Linked DNA regions of Homo sapiens: region 1 is linked to region 2. Evidence: fine-mapped expression QTL. A gene starts in region 2. The other region holds a variant in brackets. All regions are shown on one strand. Distances are from middle to middle.

Region 1 (5,378 bases), 930 kb before region 2:
CGCAGCCACCCGCCCACACACAGCAGTGCTGTCTCTTCGAGCACGAAGCCAAGTTTGGGTTTTCCTTTTTTTTCCAGCTTCTATTTTCTAGAAAAACTTACTCTGAAATCAACATCTCTCCCTGATATACACATCTGCTTTATAATTATAGAAGCCCAAAGAGTATTAATAGGGATAATGGCATATGACACAGAAGAAAGAGCAGGCATGGTCATTACCGCTGTAACAGGAAGACATGTTTTCTTAAAATGTATCAGATATGACATAAAAATTGCTTTACATGTAACCTCAACATTTCAGTGAAAATTATAAAATGCAGTTTTCCCGTGATGTACCTGTAAATAATCCATATAACTTTGTTAAAAAAAATTACTTAATAGGGCTATGAATAAAATATTGCATATCAAAAGAGAATACAATGTGTACTCCTTCCTACAAGCAAGTGTACATGTTGAATACTCTTTAATCACTACTGCGATGATTAAGTTCGTGCTTAAGCATCAAGCCATCCATTTATTCCCTTAGGAATAGGACCCTATGCCTGCAAAATACGACACCAAACCACAGATAACACAGATCACAAATCCCAGATATTCTTGGGAAAACCAAGAATGAGTATACTTGAAGCCAAAATGAGGGGACTCAAAATTAGCTCAGCTGAGGGCCCCACCTTTAGTGCTGGCCAACAGCACTAAAAATACATGCAACTGCAAGATGTAATATGCTGCAAAAAATAAAAAACTCATCAGCATTCCGTTTCCAAAAATATACTGGCTTTTAAGATTGAGCATTCCGAAATTTGTGAACTTGTTTTATTTATTTATTTAGAGATGGAGTCTTGTTCTGTCACCAGGCTGGAGTGCAGTGGTGCGATCTCGGCTCACTGCAACCTCTACCTCCCAGGTTCAAGCAATTCTCCTGCCTTGTCCTCCGGAGTAGTTGGGACTACAGGCACGCGCCACTGTACCCAGCTAATTTTTTTGTATTTTTAGTAGAGATGGGGTTTCACCACCCCGTTGGCAAGGATGGTCTCGGTCTCCCAACCTCATGATCCACCCGCCTCGGCCTCCCAAAGTGCTTGGATTACAGGCGTGGGCCACCACATCTGGCCTCTGAACTAATTTTATAAGCACACTTTAAAATACACAATGGTGGCCGGGTGTGGTGGCACGCACCTGTAGTCCTAGCTACTCGGGAGGCTGAGGCAGGAGAATTGCTTGAACCTGGGAGGCGGAGGTTGTCTTGAGCCGAGATAGCGCCACTGCACTCCAGCCTGGCGACAGAGTGAGACTCCGTCTCAAAAATAAAATAAAAATAAAATAAAATAACAATGGTGCCCATCAGGAACACCTGGAAATATCAAAAACACTATTCCCCTAAAGACAGTCAGAGTCTGTCTAGCTTTGGGGCACCCCCCCTCCCCCACCACACACAATATATATATTTATATATATACCATACACACATATACATACTGACACACACCACACATACTCATATACATACACACATATGCACTCACACACACAACCAGCAGTGGTCTCTAGTTAAATTAGAGCACTTGCTTTGAAATGATTAATATGTAGCTCCAGAATCATTTATCAAAAATCATGCTATTAATAAAAGAATAGCTAGTCCCATGATTTTTAATTCAGTTCCCACCTCTAAGCCAGTGCCTCACTTTGCAGGTTAATTTCATTGCCTCTCACCTGGATGACTGCAATAACCACACTTACCTCCCTGGATCCAACTCTTGTCCCTCACTATCCACCCTCCACACAATGGTCAGAGGCACACTTTGTGAAATAAGACCCAGATATTCCATGACCCTATTCAAAATCCTGCAAAAGCTTCCTACTCAGTGCAATTTAGAGCAAAGTCCATACCTAAAGGCCCTGATGACCTCAGCTCAGACCATGTTCCTTGTGTATCCTTAAGTACCCCCTACCCAAACATGCCTTCTGTTCATTGAGCACCCATAGGTTAGTGGCAGCCTCAGGGCCTTTGCCCTTTTTTCCTCTCTCTGGAATACTCTTCCCACTTATTTTTGCTAACCGACTCCTTATTGATATTCTGGAAGAATGCACTCTGTGTGGGCAGGGATGCTTGCTCCTTTGCATTCACTGTTACTTCTCCAGTGCCTAGAAAGTGCTTGGCACATAGTAGGCTCTCAAATAGCTGAATGAATTAATGAATTAATGAACAAATGAATGAATGTGAATCTGCCCCCATCATGTAAGCTCCATGAAGACAGGGATTTTTGTCTCATAGTCAGTGCTATATCCCAGGTTCTCGAACAGCCCCTAGGACCTCAGAGCTGCTCAGTGTGGGCTTAAAAGCTGTGTCACCTTGGGATGCAACTCAGCCTTCTTGAACAAATACTCATGCTCAGCTCAGAGAACCTTTCCTTGCGGACCCAGTCTAAAGTGGCCACCCCCAGGCAGTCTCAATCCCAATTCTGCAGACCACCATCTGCAATTGCCTCACATGTGCACAGTAGTTATTTCTCCTTTGTTTCTCCCCACCAAATGCTAGCTTCTTGAGAGTAAAGACCTTACCTGTCTTGCTCAGAGTTGTGCCTTAAGGACTAGAACAATATATTTGTTGA[G/GTGAA]TGAATGAATGAATGAATGAATGAATGAATAAATAAGTGAATGGTGTGCTAGTACTTCTGTGCCCCCAGGCAGCCAGTTTAAAGGTCACCGTGGGATAAAGGAATCCAAAATGAGAAGTGTGCTGCATGTATGCTGGCATGAAAAAGCTTTCCAGCACCTGCAAGTAGAGATGCCCAGCATTGGTTCTGAGACAGGAATGGCACAATGACACACAGACTTACCCATCCAGGGGATACCCAAGTGCTTCCAGGGTGGGTGGGAGCATGTGACATCTAGGCTGGGAACATGCACACTTCCCACTGGCACTGGATCCTACCAGAAGCCTGGAGAGCATTTTATAGAAAGTGCAGGTTGAAGTGATACATCACAGACTCCATTCAGAGTAAAAAATTAGATGGAGATATTAGGACATCTGTCAGGCCCCCCACGTGGAGCTGGATTCTCTCAATGGGCAGAAACCAGCAAGATGTCTTTATAAGGCGGAAGCAGGGAGAAAAAGAGAGTCCAAAGCACCCCATACCCATCCTCGGACCTAAATAACATTAACAAATATGAAATGAACACTCATTCTACTCATGGCACCAACACTAAGTGTGCTTCATATCCCCATGGCAAACCTATCAGATAGGCGACCTTACACCTTCCACTTTACAGATGAGGGAATTGAGGCTGAAAGCAGTGAAATGTCTCATTCACACAACAAGCAAGGGGTGAAACCCTGAGTTCAGCCCACGTCTGTCTGATTCCAAAGCCTGGACTTTGAATGGGTATGCTACAGTCAGTCCCAAAAAAATAGGCATGTTTATATCAGTTCTAAAGTTAAAAGTTGAGCCAGGCGTGGTGGCTCACATCTGTAATCACAACACTTTGGGAGGCCGAGGCTGGCAGATCACTTGAGGTCAGGAGTTCAAGACAGGCCTGGCCAACATGGTGAAACCCAGCCTCTACTAAAAATACAAAAACAAAATTAGCTGGGCGTGGTGGCAGGCACCTGTAATCCCAGCTACACGGGAGGCTGAGGCACAAGAATCGCTTGAACCTGGGAGGCGGAGGTTGCAATAAGCTGAGATTGTGTCACCGTACTCCAGCGTGGGCAACAGAATGAGACTCTGTCTCAAAATAAATAAATAAATAAGTTAAAACTTGGAAAAGTTGACCACCCTCTGCCAGATGTGAGCTGAGTGAACCTAAGAAGTAACCCAAGCATCATGATCATCATTTTCTCTATCTGTAAAATAATGAGTTATTGCTGGGTCTACATGAGAATGCTTGTCAGGCACTCAGAATAGTACCTAGAAGAGTAGATTCTCATTAAAACCAATTCTTTTACCTTTACTATTAGACAAGTCCATAACTCCTGCATAATCTAGCAAAGTCATGGCTCTTAGAGGCAGGGTAGATAGTACAGTGGTCTAGAGGCAACCAGATATTGCTCCAAGTCTTAGATGTGTTTCTACCTTCAGAACCTCAGGAAAATAATCTAATCTTCCTGAATCAGTGTCTTCATTTGTAAAATGGGGATAATATCAGCTACCTCATAGAGTTACAGTGAGATTGTGATGATTTAATGAGATAATGCACATAAAGTACTCGCATAGTTCTGGGAACACAAGAAGTGCTCTACAGAAAACAGGTTCCATTAGCAGTTGTCTACACTGTGCAGAAGGAATTGGTATAATCCCTGGCCATTTTAGTCTAATTCAATTCAACAAATGTTCATTGAAGACCTGCCAGGGGCAAGGCACTGTTTCAGGCAAAAGAAGGAAGACCTGGTCCTGTCCTTAATGAGCCTTGAACAGCTTGGCCAGACAACACTATTGAAGTGATTCAGTAGGGGATGAGGAGACACAAATGAGCCGGCAGGCTGGGGTCTTGGCATACCAAGACTGAATACCAAGTTCAGGAGCAGCCATTAATTATGAGCACACTGGGATGCTGTTGAAGGTGTAAGCCGGTGAATGACATCATCCAACCTATGCTTTGGAAGAATTCCACCCTTTGTGGAGAATGGATTACAGCCAGGAAAACCAGAGGCAAGGGAATCACTGAGGAGGCTACTGCACCAGACCAAGCAAGAGTCCATGATGGGTGCCAATGAGGAAGAAAGATGGGTATGGATGCAAGTGGCATCCTAGAGGCACCACTTGGAGAAATTGGCAACTGATGGGATGGCGGGGGAGGCAGAAAAGAATTTACGATGACTCAGCTTTCTTGCCTAGAAGGGTAGGGAAGGTGGTAGTTTCTTACATAAAATGAAGAAGCCAAAACTAGCACCTAGTGGCTTACTGAGTGAGCGAGTGGGTCTGTCTATGTAGGAAGGGAACAGAGGATGGGATGGTGAGAAACTGGTAAAACATCCTGGTGATGAGGAACACAGTGTACGATGGGAGGAGGCCATGGGGAGGTAAGAACTAAAGTCAAGGAACTGAATGAGATCACCAAGAACCAACTAGAAAGATAACTGAGGATGGAACTTGAGGAGATGGTACGTACATTGCAAGAGCCTGATGGCAGCCACAAAAGAGTGAGAATGACAGTCAGAGAGGTAGGAGGGAAACCAAGTGTCCATAATACAGAAGAGAAGAAAGTAGAACGTTGTCTCGAAGAAAGGTAGTATTAATGGTATCACGTGGTGAGATGGAAATCACCAGATTTGGTGGTTAGGTACAATCAACGGCTTCTGAGACAGTCATTTCAGTATTGTTGAAGAGGTGGAAAAAAGAGGTGTTGAGTGCAGGCTCTTCTTTCAGGAAGTTTGTCGGAGAGAGG
Region 2 (5,329 bases):
CTCCTTCCCGCTTCCCCCAAAATCACATTCCAGTTTTTATTGTCTTTGTGTCCAAAGTAAACTAGGTGACTTATTTGTATAAAATGTTATTTTGCCACATGAGACAGTAATAAAAGAAAGATTTTCACAGTACGTCTCCCTCGTCCTGTCTCCTGATTGTTGGGCCCGTTGTGTTGCTGAGGGGAGCAGGGGCGAATGGGGGCTCCAGGTTTCTCTTACTTTGGCTATTATGTGGCCCTTCTGTAAGTAGTTGAACTAGAGTATAGCTGGCTTCTAGGGTGATTGAGGAATTGTACTGGACTTTAGGCTTAATATTTTTGCTTTATATTTTCCCAGGGTGAGTGGCTTTGTAAATTGAAAGTTTACATGCATGTTTTAAAGGTAGGGTTTTTTTTTTTGAGATGGAGTTTCGCTCTTTTTTCCCAGGCTGGGATGTGATGGCATGATGGTGGCTCACTGCACCCTTCGCCTCCCGGGTTCAAGTGATTGTCCTGCCTCAGCCTCCCAAGTAGCTGGGATTACAAGTGCATGCCACCACGCCCGGCTAATTCTGTATTTTTGGTAGAGACAGGGTTTCCCCATGTTGGCCAGGCTGGTCTTGAACTCCTGACCTCAGGTGATCAACCCGCCTTGGCCTCCCAAAGTTCTGGGATTACAGGTGTGAGCCACTGTGGCTGGCCATAAAGGTAGGCTTATTAAGAAATACTTTAACTACAGTAAAATTTACCTCAATTAAGAGTATTGATGCATTTTGACAAATGAATACTTTTATTACCCATCACAATCATGATATAGGACATTTCCATCGTACCCACTCAGAAAGTTCCTGAGTTCCTTGTGTTTGCAGCCAGGTGACTTCCCCCACTTCGCCTCTTGCAACCACTATCTGATTCTGTCTCTATTGGAAAACTTGGATACTTTTAAAATGAAATTTGAACGTTCATATTTACAGTCACAAATTCTCAAGAGTCTGGTTTAGATGCTCTGTGGCACCTGAAGCAATTATTGGCCTTTGCTCACAAACACAACTCACTTATTTCTCCCTTTTCTCCTGCTTCTTCATCGTTTCTTCCACCCAGGGCTGGTTCCCAGGTGGGATGACGGAAAGGTGAGGAAGCCCTTAGAGCATTTGCCAATGGGAGCCATTCATTTGACTTTAAAGTACTGAGAATTTAGAGGCGTTCTTTTAAATGCATTATTTAAAAAGAAAGGTAACACATTAAGGACTTTGCTGCATCTTTTGATTGGCTTTCTTCTAGGAAGTAGTGACCGAGGTTTCCACTTTCCTCCAAGAGGAAGAGACAGAAGTTTTGGCAAATAGGTCAATGCTGGGAACAGATGCCTGCCTGGCTGAGTGCTGGGAAAGAAAGGCAGTTGGAGGGATGTGTGGGTGCCTGGGAGGGCGTGGGTGGTGCCCAGGAGGCTATGGGAATCAGAATCACACTTGCACAAGAGAAGACCCTTATGGGACAAGTAAAATCAGCATAGTTTCTTGGGCGGGGCAAAGGTGTCCTGATGAGGATGCTAGGGGTCAAATATGTGTCTGGGTTCTGCCCCAATCGGGAATGAGACACAGTACTGAAGTGGAACGGGGGTAGCATCTCCACCCACCTTCACAGCCTCTGGGGAAAAGAAAGCTTTCCTTGCAGCCCAACTCCAGGGGCCTAAATATTGAGCACCAACACAAGACAGGTCCTTGAGCTTCTCGGAGCGAGTCGGGGAAGCAGATAATTTCAGATGCAAAGTGCCTTGAATAAACAGAACGAAAGATAGAGAGCCAGAGGGGGAGAAACGGCTTGGTGTGGTCAGGGCAGGCATCCATGAGACCTAAACGAAGAGGGGGCATTCCAGACAAAAGGAACAGTGATCACAGAGGCCCCGAGTCAGGAACCAGCTAAGGGTCTTAGAGAAGAGCTGCCTCGTAAAGCTAAGCAACAATAACCAGGGAACGGTGGGCATGGGCCCTGATAGACAAGGCAGGTCTTGGCTTTTTAAGCCATAGAATTGGATTTTAGGAGGGATGGGCCCGCCGACAAAGCCAACAAAGTTTTAACCCGAAGATCGCTATCTTATTTATGCTTTAAAAAGACCTCTCTGGCCTTTCTGCGAAGCTCTATCCTTAGCTTTCTCTTGTTAGCATTTTGATTAACGAATGTGGGCACGAACAGCCAGCTGACCGACCGCGCGCGCAGTCGAGCGTCGGTTCCTCGCCTTGGGAGGGACCACTGGAGGCCCCGCCCCCTGGCCGCGAGCGCACCTCGGCCCCGCTCCCGAGGCCCTACGGGCGTGGCCTCTGTCCCGGGTCCCGCCCCCCAGCACTCCGGAACAGCGCGCTCGCAGCGGGAGGTCGCGAAGCCTGGGACTGTGTCTGTCGCCCATGGCCGCCGCGCTGCTCGCCCGGGCCTCGGGCCCTGCCCGCAGAGGTGAGTGCGCTGGGGATCCGTACGGCGGGGCTTCAGCCCGCGTCTGGCCCAGCGGGCGGAGGTCCTGGCGGCCGGCTCTGTCAGAGCCGCTGGCAGGCGGAGCCCCACTCCGGGAGCGCTCACGGCCTTTGCCCCAGTTCTGCTGCTCCTTGCGCCGACCCAGCCCGGCCCTTCAGGCGTCCCTGGTTCCTGCACAGACCCCTACCCCCCGATTGACCCCAGCCACCAGCCCAGTTCCCAGTTCCCATATCTCCCTCCCTTCATTTCACCCCCACTAGAGGTTCAGGGTGCGTCCTTCTTCCGGAGCCAGGCCTGGGATTGAACCAGACCCGCATCTGTGACCTTGGGCAAGACAGCCCCTCCTCAGCCTCGGTTGGCCCATGTGTAAAATGTCCACAGAGAAAATCAGAGTTGTTGGGAGGATTAAATCATAGGGTATGTAAAGCACTTCGTGCCTGGCGTGTAACAGGTGTTCCACAAATGCTCGTTCTTGCTGGTTAATACAGTACCTTTCCCATCTTACGTGTCTCCAGTTGTAGCAGCCGTGACACATATAGCCACGGCTTCCTTTGCCTGGCCTGAATTACAAGGGGAACGCTACTGAGAACTGTGTTAAGCGCTAGTTAGTCTTTCTTTCGCACTCCGAGGAGCGGAATACTATTCGCCTCCACTTGTTATAGAAACGGAGGCTCACTGACGTTTAAAACCCTTGCCTAAGGTCACAGAGCTGAGGTCTTATTACTGTTGGTATTATACTGAGGACTGAAGGATGTAGTGTATGGAAATGTCTAGTGAGTGTACTAAGCATTCAGTTAGTATGGGGTTTTCAGTGGCCGCCATGGACATTTTGGGCTGACAGTTCTTTGTTGTGGGGGCTGTCCTCTGCCTTGTTGGATGTTCAGCAGGGATCCCGGACCCCTATCCACTGGGTACCAATAGTATTCCCCTGCTCTAGTTGTGACAACTAGAACTGGCTCCAGACATTGCCAGATGTCCCTTGGAGGGCAAAATCCTCCCTGGTGAGTTAGTGGGTCACTAGGATTCTTGGAGACCTCCTGCCTCCTCCTTCCACTCACTTCTGCCCTTGCCGGCAGCTCTCTGTCCTAGGGCCTGGCGGCAGTTACACACCATCTACCAGTCTGTGGAACTGCCCGAGACACACCAGATGTTGCTCCAGACATGCCGGGACTTTGCCGAGAAGGAGTTGTTTCCCATTGCAGCCCAGGTGGATAAGGAACATCTCTTCCCAGCGGCTCAGGTGAGAGTGCAACCTCAGCAGCCCACGATAGTGGTCTGCCCTCTGCTACTGGATGAATGGTGGCAGTGACAGTCAGCGGCACTCGGACTCTGGTAGAGGAACCCCAAAGCAGGGCCTGGAACCCAGAAAATGCTCTGGAAGTTTCCCTTGTCCAGCCTGTGGCCAGTAGCCAGGACTTAACTTCTGGGACAACAGTAATATGTGGTGGATGGTCAGTTGCTTACTGTGCCAGCCACTGTGCTCATTCTAAATAGTGCCTTTAGGGTGTTTGGCATGCACTAGGCACTGTTCTTGAGATGGGTTATCTCATCTGTTCCTCACAACGGTCCTGTGAGGTGAAGGTACTATTCTTATTTATTTTTTTGAGACGGAGTTTCACTCTTGTGGCTCAGGCTGGAGTGCAATGGTGCGACCTCGCCTCACTGCAGCCTCTGCCTCCTGAGTTCAAGTGATTCTCCTGCCTCAGCCTCCCAAGTAGCTGGGATTATAGGCGTGCACTGCTCTGCCCCGCTACTTTTGTATTTTTAGTAAAGACGGCGTTTCACCATGTTGGCCAGGCTGGTCTCAAACTCCTGAATTCAGGTGATCTGCCCACCTCGGCCTCCCAAAGTGCTGGGATTACAGGTGTGAGACACCACGCCCGGCCAAAGGTAGTATTATTATATACCCCATGGACTCAGACTTGTGAACAAGTTAAATAACATACCCAAGGTCATGGAGCTCATCAGCGGCAGCCTGCTCGACCTATTTTCTTTTTTATTTACTTATTTTTTTTTGAAATGGACTCTCGCTCTGTTGCCCAGGCTGGAGGGCAGTGGCGCAATCTCAACGCACTGCACCCCTCTGCCTCCTGGGTTCAAGCAATTCTCCTGCCTCGGCCCCCAGTAGCTGGGATTACAGGCGGGCACCACCACGCCCAGCTAGTTTTTGTACTTTCAGTAGAGATGGGGTTTCTCCATGTTGGGCAGGCTGGTCTCAAACTCCTGACCTTAGGCGATCTGCCCGCCTTGGCGTCCCAAAGTGCTGGGATTACAGGCGTGAGCCACCGTGCCCGGCCTGCTTGAACTGTTTTCTCCCCTGAGTTTCCCATCAGCGCGCTCCCTCCCGTGCCACTGTGTTCTTCCATTTGCATTCAGTCTGTCTGCAGCTACGCGTTGAAGATGTTACTGCCGTACACGCTGACCTAAAGATGTCCAGCACCTGGTGTAAACACTCAGTAGTAGATAGTTGTTTAATTAATGATTTGTGAAAAGTCAAACCTCTCCGGCCTCTTCTCCTTGCCTGTTTTTTTTTTTAATTTTAATTTTAATTTATTTTTTATTTTTAAAAATTTTTTGAGACAGTCTTGCTCTGTCACCAGGTTGGAGTGCAGTGGCGCGATCTCGGCTCACTGCAACCTCCGCCTTCTGAGTTCAAACAATTGTTTCCTGCCTCAGCCTCCCGAGTAGCTGGGATTACAGGCGCACACCACCATACCCGGCTAATTTTATGTATTTTAGTAGAGACGGGGTTTCACCGTGTTGCCCAGGCTGGTCTCAAACTCCTGAGCTCAGGCAATCCACCCGCCTCGGCCTCGCAAAGTGCTGGGATTACAGGCGTGAGCCACCACACCCGGCCTTAAAAATGAGTTTTAAAAGGGACGTAAAAC

What was found. PIP is the estimated chance that this variant, and not a neighbour inherited with it, causes the effect. A credible set is the group of variants that fine-mapping cannot tell apart.
Region 1: its variant is the best candidate, but not a certain one, in a credible set for the expression of ACADS in ovary (GTEx, PIP 0.89).

What each region holds. Positions count from the first base shown.
Region 1 is chr12:119,791,662-119,797,039 of GRCh38, forward strand. The region is part of intron 10 of CIT (citron rho-interacting serine/threonine kinase); the gene reads right to left. Among named protein-coding and RNA genes, the nearest start is that of MIR1178, 81 kb to the left of the region's middle. The variant G/GTGAA (reference allele first, on the strand shown) is at 2,609.
Region 2 is chr12:120,723,509-120,728,837 of GRCh38, forward strand. ACADS (acyl-CoA dehydrogenase short chain) reads left to right here and starts at 2,318. Exons shown (of 10, transcript NM_000017.4): 1 at 2,318-2,423; 2 at 3,518-3,681. The coding sequence starts at 2,378. It overlaps UNC119B (unc-119 lipid binding chaperone B), which reads left to right. Exons shown (of 5, transcript NM_001080533.3): 5 at 1-132. RefSeq lists an enhancer at 1,990-2,491 and a silencer at 2,128-2,637.